2 separate regions of the Homo sapiens genome follow, and region 2 is linked to region 1. The links come from fine-mapping of genetic effects on gene expression. A gene starts in region 1. The other region holds a variant in brackets. All regions are shown on one strand. Distances are from middle to middle.

Region 1 (5,377 bases):
GCCAGGCATGATGGTGTGCACCTGTAGTCCCAGGTACACGAAAGGCTGAGATGGGAGGATCACTTGAGCCTGGGAGGTTGAGGCTGCAGTGAGCCAAGATTGCACCACTCCACTTTAGCCTGGGTGACAGAGTGAGACCCTGTCTCAAAAAAAGAGAAAAAGAGGAAAGGAAAAAGAAAAAAACCTGCATATTACACTTACACCTATAGCCAGCTGTCTTTTGTCAATAGAATTCCACTAACATCATTCTATCTGACATCTATTGTATCTGATAGAGGAGCTGAAATCTCTCACCTGGATAAGTGTGAGGAATAAGCATTCCGGCTGCCACATCACTGGTGGTATCTGGAGTAAACTTGTCTGAAATGATGGTAACGGAGCATCGGGGCACCAGTTTGGAGATGCACACAGCCGTGGAGAGCCCCACCACACCTGCCCCGACAACTGCAATCCGTGCTGTGTCCATGAGCCTGTGAGGAGGGAAATGGGAGCTATACCCCTTGTTTTAAGGATTTTCCCATCCAGACAAAGTTTGGTCTTGACAGTTTTTTCCTTAGGTCTTCAGCCACTCAGAATAAGACTTAGCCTATTGGTGTTTCTTGTGAGATAAAGAGGATAACCCCATAAGCTCACTTTCCATTAAATATTGGTGTATAAGCAACAAGATCTCCATGGGCTTTTAGAGAGTAACACAAAACTGGCTTGGATTTGCCTTTAGAACACCTAGCCAGTAAGTAGGTCTGCATTTGGAGGAGTTTTCTACTCATTCTTCACCCTTCCCTTTTTTTTCCCCCTGAAAGGGGGTCTTGCTCTGTTGCCCAGCCTGGAGTACAGCGACGAGATCTCGGCTCACTGCAACCTCCGCCTCCCAGGTTCAAGCAATTCTCCTGCCTTAGCCTCCTGAGTAACTGGGATTACAGGTGCCCACCACCACGCCAGGTTAATTTTTGTATTTTTAGTAGAGATAGGGTTTCAGCATGTTGGCTAGGCTGGTCTCGAACTCCTGACCTTGTGATCCGCCGGCCCCAGCCTCCCAAAGTGCTGGGATTACAGGCGTGAGCCACCATGCCCGGCTTCATCCCCCTTTCCTAAACCATTTTCCCTATGGGCACAACCTAGGGAAGGTTGACAGAAAACCACAGAGCTGTAGTCTTTGCTCCCAGAACTACCTGAGGAGCAGTGGTGAGGGGCATGACCCATGAGCAACTCAAAACTCAACTCTGTCTACAAAGTTGTTTCTAATAATAAGGACATTACAGAAAGTTTCAGCAGCTGAACTCAGTCTCCTCTGCCATCTGCCACTGTCACCGGCCCCCTGTCTGTCCTGGACAGGTTCTGTAACCTGAGGAGCAGTCCGTGGTCTCCTAGCCTCCACTCCCTCATCTGTAACACAGAACAGATGGATTACTTGCTCCTTTGGGTGGTAAATAAGAGAGACCCAGTGAGGCGGTCTCATAAAGGGGGCTCCTTGGGAGAGTCTGAATGGAAATGCAGGGGACAGACATCCCGGAGCCCGGGCCAGGTGTCCTGAGGCTGGCACCCTCTGTCCCACCCCTCACCCACGGAGCCTTGCTCCACTGTCAGCATCCCCGCCTGCCTTTGCTTCCCTGTTTTTGGCTTTCCCCATCTGTTCCTGCTCTGACTCTTTCTGTATGGCTCAGGTTTAAACTCCAGAGAGAGAAAATGCAGTTGTACCAGTTGGTCATTGCATCCCCTGTTGGACAAAATTCTAGCACCAGGCCAACTTGCTGGGCTAAACCAGCCTCTGAATGTGCCCTTGGCATAGTTGCCCTTCTCTGTCCAAAGCACAGTAATCAGGGTACTGGGCCACATGGTACAAACCATGGCCACCCACACACAGAGGTTCACCTTTCCTCTGGAAGGCTGGGCAGCTTCCTCAGCAAGGGCTGTTGGCAGGAAAAACGTGGGCTTGGTTGTTAGTGGCCTCTGCTTTCTCTTCCAGTTCTGAAGATTCTCGCACTATGAGACTTTAAAGCCCTCCAATGAAGTTTAGTGTGATATTCCTATTCCTCGAGCAGTCTATGCATTTCTGTGCTAATTTGATACGTTAATTTGATTGCTGTACAGTGGGCTGGTCAGCTGAGAGAGAGTGGGCCTGCCAGGGCTGAGGGAAGAGAAGGGAACGGGCCCAGGCCAGAGCAGTCTGGTGGGGGCCAGCTTGAGTAGAGCTGTCCTGCAGCCACCAGTGACCTTATTGACTTCGCTGTTTCACATCAGCCTCCCATGTCCAGCAACTCTCTCAAAACAGCTCTAATAAACTAAGTTGAAAGGGCAAGCAATCTGTGGCTAAGAATAACCAGCTGCCAGGGAGGAGGAGTGAGCGAGCAATGTGGTGTGTCCTGGCACAGTGGCCTGTCCATCACTGTCCCCTGACCCTATTCAGACACACTCCCAAACTCCCAGAGCATGGACGGAACGACCCCTCAGCTGAAAGCAAGAATTCAAGTACCTGTCTCTGAAAAAGCAGTCTTGGAAGCCACCAAAATCTCTGGCACCAAACCTTGTTTCCCAGTGCCTGGCTGGTCTCATGCCCTGAGAGACAGAGAGAAAGCGAAACTGATTCCCATTGGTGACTTGATTCAGGACATTCCCCCTGGTCTTCCTTTCCATTGGCCTGCATGGCTGTCTCTGTCACCCATTGCCCCGGAGAAAGGAGCAAGTGACCTCAACCTGTCATCTCCATGGCGCTGTCTCTGCCAAGCCCTTCCCTTTCTGGCCCACGAGCCCTCTGTCTGGCCGCCAGCCTGGGCTTTCTCCAGCTGATTTGTAGGTATGGTGAATAATGGGTGAGCCTGTCCAACTTCCAACCTCGTTTGGCTGCCCACAGTTAGCCGGGTGCCTGGCTCTGCTGGGTCAGCTGGTGGGGGAAGCAGGAAGGAGGGGGTGAGGGCTGAGTAATGTTGTTGATTGATTGGAGCTGGAAACACTATTCAGGAGATAATCTAGGATAGAACCACATGATTCTTTAGCCCAGCAGTCCCCAGCCTTTTAGGCACCAGGGGCTGGTTTCATGGAAGACAATTTTTCCACAGACTGGGGATGGGGAGATGGTTTCAGGATGATTCAAGTGTGTTACATTTACTGTGCACTTTATTTTTATTATTATTCGTTGTAATATATAATGAAATAATTATACAACTCAACATAATGTAGAATTAGTGGGAGCCCTGAGCTTGTTTTCCTGCAATTAGATGGTTTTCTCTGAAAGTAATGGGAGGCAGTGACAGATCATCAGGCATTAGATTCTCATAAAGAGCACACAAACTGGATCCCTTGTGTGCGCAGTTTACAGTAGGTTTGTGCTCCTATAAGAATCTAGTGCCTCAGCTGATCTGACAAGAGGCAGAGCTCAGGCAGTAATGCAAATGATAGGGAGTGGGTATAAATGAAGACAAAGCTTTGCTTGCTCACCCACGGCTCACCTCCTGCTGTGAGGCCAGTTCCTAACAGGCCACGGACTGGTAGTGGTCTGTGGCCTGGGGATTTGGGATCCCTGATTTAGCCCACATATTCAAAGAAGGGATTCAATATTTGATGAGTGTCTACTGAGCTCTAGGCATGAGGCACAGTTAACAAGTTTGTTTCCAGGGAGGCAGTGTGATGTGTCAAATTAGTGACAATAATATTTTCAATAATGTATATGTAGCATTAACCATGTGCTAGACACATGTATGACATCATATATCACAACCACCCTATGAAGTAGGTACTATTATCACTATCCCCATTTTGTATATGAGTACATTGAGGCTCCAAGACAGTAAGGAAGGGTCCAGGGTCTCTTAAATGGTAAAATCCAGTCTGGATATCTGACGTCAAGGCTCAAGCTCTTTTTTTTTTTTTTTTTTTTTTTTGAGATGGAGTCTCGCTCTGTCACCCAGGCGGGAGTGCAGTGGCTCTATCTCAGCTAACTGCAAGCTCTGCTTCCTGGTTTCATGCCATTCTCCTGCCTCAGCTTCTCTAGTAGCTGGGACTACAGGCGCCCGCCACCACACCTGGCTAATTTTTTGTATTTTTAGCAGAGACGGGGTTTCAACATGTTAGCCAGGATGGTCTCGATCTCCTGACCTTGTGATCTGCCCGCCTCGGCTTCCCAAAGTGCTGGGATTACAGGCTTGAGCCACTGTGCCCAGCCAAAGCTCAAGCCCTTAACCAAAACACAAACTTTGGTTTCAAGAGACCTGCATTTTTACCTTGAGCAAATCACCTGACTTCTGAGTTGGATTGCCCATCTGAAAACTGAGAATGAACTAAGAATCCCTTGCAAGTTGTTGTAGGTCTCTGATAAGTTGAGATATGTACAATTCTTTGTAAGGTGGTCTGAGGGCCGGTGAGGGGGTGGTGGGGAAAAGCAACTTTTTCTCTGGCTATGCTCAATACTGTCACAGTCACTGAATACAGAACACTTTCTGTGACCAGGTGTGTGGGGGTTGTCTCCCTACACACCAAGCATCCCATTCTGCAGATTCCCTAGCAGACACTTCAGCTGCATGTCCTCTAATTCAATTCAATTCTGACACCAGCTACCTGGAGATAGTGTCAGATCCCACAGGTTAAGGGCTCAGTCCCACAAGACTTACCCTACTTTGGATGCCAATCACAAGCCCCAGGTTGTGGGTTTCTGACTGGTGGGCTATAAATCGGGGTCCCTACAAGCCCCTTTTCAGGTTCAATTAATAATGGTTCAATTTGCTAGAGTGGCTCCAGAACTCAAAAGAACACTTTGCTTACCTTTACCCATTTATTAATATGGATATTACAAAGGATGCAGATGAAGAGCCATGTGGAAGAGAGGGCCAGGGCTAGGCATATGGGAACGGGCAAGGAGCTCCCGTGCCCTCTCTGGGGGCACAACGTCCAGGAACCTCCACATATTCAGCCATCTGGAAGCTCCCTAAACACAGTCTTGTGTTTTTCCTTTTTTTTTTTTAATGAAAGCTTTATTATGTAGACATGATGGTTAAAACATTGGCCACTAGTGACCAACTTAACCTTCAACCCCTTCTCCCTAGAGGTTGGGGATAGGGCTGAAAGTCCCCACTCTCTAATCATGTCTTGTCATTTCCAGATGACCAGCTCCCATCCTGAAGCTTACTACAGGGCTCCAGCCACCAGATATCTCATTAGCATACAAAAGACACTCTTATCACTCTGAGGATTCCAAGGGTTTTAGGAGCTATATGTCAGGAAATGGGAATGAAGACCAAATACATAGTTCCCAGTATCACAGGTGGTATACATATTTTATTGAGCACCTACTATAAAAATCAATCAACAAACATTTATGGAGCAGCCACTTTGTCCAAGACATACTGCAAGGGCTATAAAAGATTTAAGAACTTCTGAGATGTTTGCT
Region 2 (5,377 bases), 86 kb before region 1:
ATATAGGCCACAGCTGTGTAAACCAATAAATGCCATAACGGTTATAGGGGCTCTGACAGAGATCTCTACAGGGTACACTGGGGGCACAAAAAGGTACAGCGCCTGAGTATTACTCCAAAATAAATGACTGAAAATACAAAGGCAGAGCATGGGAAGCAGTCTCCACTACTAGAAGCCCAAAAGCACATCAAAGGTCTTTCCAGCATTATTAAAGACATCTTAAACACAGTAGCAGCATTTAACCTGAGCTAACATACAAAAGTAACTTCACAGATCAATAATTTAGAATCCATATGGTAAATCAATATGGTGAAACTATAGAATGATCTTAAGGGTCCACAAATAGTATTCTTCTTGCAACCTAATATTTTTCATTTCCAACTGAGTGTTGACCACAAAGAAGCTAAGCACAGCAGCTGGAACAGTGAATAATGTTAAGTTGAGGAGTCTCAGATGGGGATATAATAGAAACACCGCAAATAGATGCCCTCAGAAGTGCTCTGGCTTAATGCTTTGGTTGAGCTGTTTAAAAAACATTTCACATAAAGCAATGTTCTTATTGGAATCAGTCTGACAGCAGTTTGTGATTATTTCCCCATGGAAACCGCTAGCTTTTATCATCTCTTTCAATTATCATTTGTCTTAATTCTCTAGTGTATACATCAACATTTGTCCTTCCCAAATTCCCACAAAGAGAATTCTCTGAGCACCTTAAAACGTCAATGGCAGGTTAAATAGAAAAGGACAAAAATCATCTTTCCCTTTTTAAAACCTCTTTTTAATCATTGTGATTTTACTCCAAACAATTCCCTAAATGCCAGGGTACATTAAATGCCTATCATCCACGTGTTTCAAATATCAAGTGGCCATAACAACGCCACCCCTATTGCTCCCAGGAGGTGGGAACGTGGATTCCCAATCCTGCCTGCCACCTGTACTTCCTCTTCAGACAGGTAAAGCAGCAGCTTAAGCAGAGGTGGCTGGAAATAACATCATTTTGGATTGGTCTGTTTGTCTGTCCCCAGGAGGCCTGAGCTGAAATGTCAAATGAGGTATTACAATGAGTTGCCACAGAGAAGCAGCTTTGTTCCTGAGCTCCTGCAGGAGTGGGGACCCCCTCTATTTCTAAACCACCAGGGCATTCATACAGAGGGGCCTGCCCCACCTCAGACAAGCATTTCTCAGGGCAGGCGTGGTCCTGATTTCCAATGTAAGGAAGCAGCCTCCTTTCAGTTTTGCAAAGGCCTTATCTGGCACCTTGTCCAGACAATGTGCATTGAAAAGTGAGCAGGCTTCTTCTAATGAGAGGCAAATGTTTTCATTACTAGAGAAAAATTCCAAAAATTCAGATTAAGGACAGCAGAAGATTCCATACGCAACTAGTTCATGTTATTTAGTGGCTATTTTGCAGATATCTGAGATTCTACTTCCCGAAGGGTAAAAAGTGATCACTGAGTCATTCAGTGCATGGAGATAATGGATTTGACTCAAAAAGACTGCAACAAGCACAGCCATGAGGCTTTGGGATATTTTTGTCATTTGTGATCTCAGCATAAAGTTTTGTTTCTTGAAAAAAAGAAAGTGATTCTCTCAAGCCATGAAGCTGAATTCCAAGATTTTACTCCTAAAAGATAATGCCAAAAAAAGGGAATATTTTAAAATACTCCTTTGCCTACCAGCTTACACTCATGTACATAATAGAAATATATTAATTCAAGACCATGTAGCATTTAAAAAATTTACAGGAAAAAAAGCAGGCCCACTCATGACCTAGAAAAGAGAGCTATCGATTCTGTGTTATGCAAAAGCTTTCTTTGTTGTAAAATTTGGAATAACAGCTTCCTCCTTCACAGACCATATCCTCACACCCATGAATGACCTTAGGCAGCCCATGAAGAAATTACCAAAAAATGGTGCCACCATCAGCTTGACAAGCATGTTTCTACATTTTTTGTATAAAATAAACCAAAAGGATGCTTCTAATGCCCCATTCCTCTGTGTTTCAAGGCTACAGTCCTTTGGAGGATGAAATTATATGATGACTAATGTAAATGATCAGTTTCTTTATCACAATAGATAACTGATAGAGTGTTTGGGATATTTTTTATAAAGTCTCAATACTCCCAAATGCATGTTCCCACCCCAGTGAGCTCCTGAAGGGTTTTAAAACCAGCAGTTTTCTGCTGGGAAAGATGGCTAACCATCAATTCTGTGCATCACAGTTGTGTGCGTGGAAATGAACAAGGAACTAGGTTGTGAGTCCTCGACTCCAACTCAGCAATAAAGTGAGTGTGTGTTGATGTGTTGACGATGGAGAAGCCTAAGCTTTCTGGGAGAAACAAATCCAAAACAAGTAAAATAGATTTATTTAGCAATTTTGCTGCAATTTTGTGCTAATTAAGAGCATCTGTTAGTGGGCAGGAAACAATGACTGAAGGAAACTGTTTATTCCTTTTTAGAGGGGGTGGGGGTGGGAGTAGTTGGGGGAGGGAGAGGCACAAAATGGTATCTGGACAGAACATGACTCTAGCCCTGGCTGAGGCTGTGAGCACTGCCGTTACGTTTCTGTAACGCCCTCAGTGTGTGCCCAGCGCTTCTGAAGGCTGCGAGGGGAGTGCCGGGTGCAGTTTCACGTGCCTTCCCCTCAGCCTTCTCCTGTAATTGGCCTGTTTCTCAGACCCGGCCCTGCTTCAGAAAGAGCAAGAATCAGTTATACATTGTGCAGTGATGTTTAAAATTCAGGTAACCCATGCAAAAATTTCATTTAAAAACAAAGGATCTCAGTTTCCGTTCTGGGTAAGCACACTCCCACCCCGCGCCTCCCACGGAATGCAGCAGTAAAACCTGGACAGAATGCACAGAGCGGTTATTTGAGGAATCTGAAAAGTAAACAGTAGCAGGCAGATTGGAGAAGAAGACCAGAATTCAAAGTACCTCGAAACTAGAAGCCAGGTCACCATTGCTTTTCCTTCTGGTGTCCTGCCCGCCCTACTCTAGGCTGCCTGGCACCGGTGGTGGGCACTGGCGCAGCCAGGAAGCACCAGGAGCAGCCCCGCAGTTCAGGCTCCAGGAGGCGGGGCGTCTCCCGATGCTCAGGGATAGTAGAGGAAATCCTCACTTTTCCTCCTTTTTTTTCCTTTCTC[C/A]GTTCTTGCAAGTAATCCCACTAAGATGGTAGAAGCCACAGTGGGGGCCTGAAGGCACCTAGAACTCTGCGAAAACGGAAGTTTCCTCTCCTCTCTGAGGCAGTGGACCCCAGAGAGTGGGGTGAATCCTCATTGACTATGTCTGTCTCTCTCTTCCCGCAGCTTGGCCTTGGACTCAGGCACAGTCACAGGAAGTGTGAAGCAGAGCGTAGGCAAAGCAGGGGTAAAAGCCCAAACTTTCTGGTCATAGATTCAAAAACCGTAGGGAACTGGATAATACTGGGGAAACTGGGGAGAAGGAGTAGCTTGGGAAGGCAGCCCCATTAACGGATTTGTAAAGCACCTGGGCTCACTCTAGAACTGTGCATGTGTGGATCTGATCCTGCCTGGCACAGCAAAGACTGAGAACTGAGCTAATAGATGGACCTCTGGAGCTAACAGACAGACAGACCTCTGCCCAAGCCCCAGACTGGCCTGGGCATACATGGGATACACATGGGACAGAGGTGAAACCCCTACCAAGCCTTTGAAAACAGAGCTGACATGGAAATTACAACCCACAGGAGGCTGGTGGGAACTTGAGGCCTGGACCCAACCAGGATAACTGCCTGTTAAAACAAATATATCGACATTATCCACAGTATTTAAACAAAACTCGGCCTTATAATATTCAAATTTTCAGGATACAGTCCCAAACTACTAAGCATATGAAGAATCAGGAAAATCCCAACTTATGTGGGAAAAAGACAATCAGCAGATGCCAATGTAGGCCTGATACAGATGTTGAAATTTTTGGCAAAGACTTAAGAGCAACATTTACAAAATAATCCATGAAGTAAAGGTGGACATGCTTGAAACCAAGGGCAAGATAGAAAGTCTCAGCAAAGAAATAGGAAGCATAGGGAGCCAAATGGAAATTCCAGAACAGAAAATACAATAACTGAAATAAAATCTCAGGGGATGAATTCAATAGCAGAAAGAATTTGACACAAGAAAGAGCCAGTGAACTTGAAGACAGATCAATAGAAAGTATCCAATGTGAAAAACAGAGAGAAAAATTATTGTGGGCAGGGGGGAAAGAGCCTTGGGGACCTGTGCAGCAATACCAAGTGGTCTAGCATTCATGTCACTGATATTCCAGAGGAGGGGAAGAAAGAATGCAGTGCAGGAAAAAAAAAAATTAAAGAAATAATGAGGCCAGGCACGATGGCACACACCTGCAGTCCCAGCCCTTTGGGAGGCTGAGGCGGGCAGATCACTTCAGCTCAGGAGTTCAAGGCCAGCCTGGGCAACATGGCGAGACCCTGTCTCTACAAAAATATAAAAATTAGCTAGGCATGGTAGTAAATCCCAGCTGTAATCCCAGCTACTCTGGTGGCTGAGGTGAGAGGATTGCTTGAGACTGGGAGGTCAAGGCTGCAGTGAGTCATGCTGTGCCACTGCACTCCAGCCTGTCTGACAAAGTGAGACCCTGCCTCAAAAAAAAAAAAAAAAAAAAAGGAAGAAAGAATGACTGAAAGACCCCCCAAATATGATGGAAAATATAGCCTAAAGATTCAAGAAGCTTTGCAAACCCCTCAGAGGAAAACTCGAAGAATTCCACACCTTTATGTGTCATAAGCAAAGTGCTGGATATTAAAGACAACAACAATAAAAAACTGAGCCTCTGCTAATCTTGTGACAGACCCAGTAGTGGGCCAGGGTCAAAACAACAAGGTGAGAACGGGCAGAGCCAGCCCGTCCCATAGGAGCCTCTTCCCCTCAGGCCCCCTCCCTGTCAAGACCCAGCTCTCTCTCTCTGCAAGCCCATCTGCTAAATGTCTCTGGCAGCAGACAGCAGGCATGCTGAAATTCAAATCCAGAGCGCCAATCTGCCGCCTCTGCAGCATGACACAGAGGGTAGGCTGGGAGGCAGGGGAGCCAGAAATCAAATCAGCTCTGACAAGAAAAAATGCATTATAATTCAAGCAGGTCCTGATAACTTTTAGGAAGGAATAAAAAATATAAGACAAGAAGGAATAAACACTCAACTCTGGATTTATCCTCTAAGTTATTTTGATAAGTTGGAAAGAGTGGCTAAACAAATTTGAGTTGGAGTTTGTTCTTAAATTGACATCTTTAAATTCACCACATTTTCTGTGTAGGTCAAAATGGTTCAAATGTGAGCAAGACTGAAACACACCAGGGGATGGCTAAGAGAATAAAACGTAATATATTTTAGATTTTTATCATGG

Evidence for each region.
Region 2: its variant is fine-mapped to the expression of DDO in blood mononuclear cells (TOPMed, PIP above 0.99).

The regions. Positions count from the first base shown.
Region 1 is chr6:110,412,997-110,418,373 of GRCh38, forward strand. DDO (D-aspartate oxidase) reads right to left here and starts at 2,579. Exons shown (of 5, transcript NM_001372108.2): 1 at 2,471-2,579; 2 at 295-470. The coding sequence starts at 466. It overlaps LOC105377936 (a long non-coding RNA gene), which reads left to right and starts at 2,648. Exons shown (of 2, transcript XR_942856.2): 1 at 2,648-2,791.
Region 2 is chr6:110,327,039-110,332,415 of GRCh38, forward strand. The region is part of intron 1 of METTL24 (methyltransferase like 24); the gene reads right to left. Among named protein-coding and RNA genes, the nearest start is that of METTL24, 29 kb to the right of the region's middle. RefSeq lists an enhancer at 3,062-3,562. The variant C/A (reference allele first, on the strand shown) is at 3,144.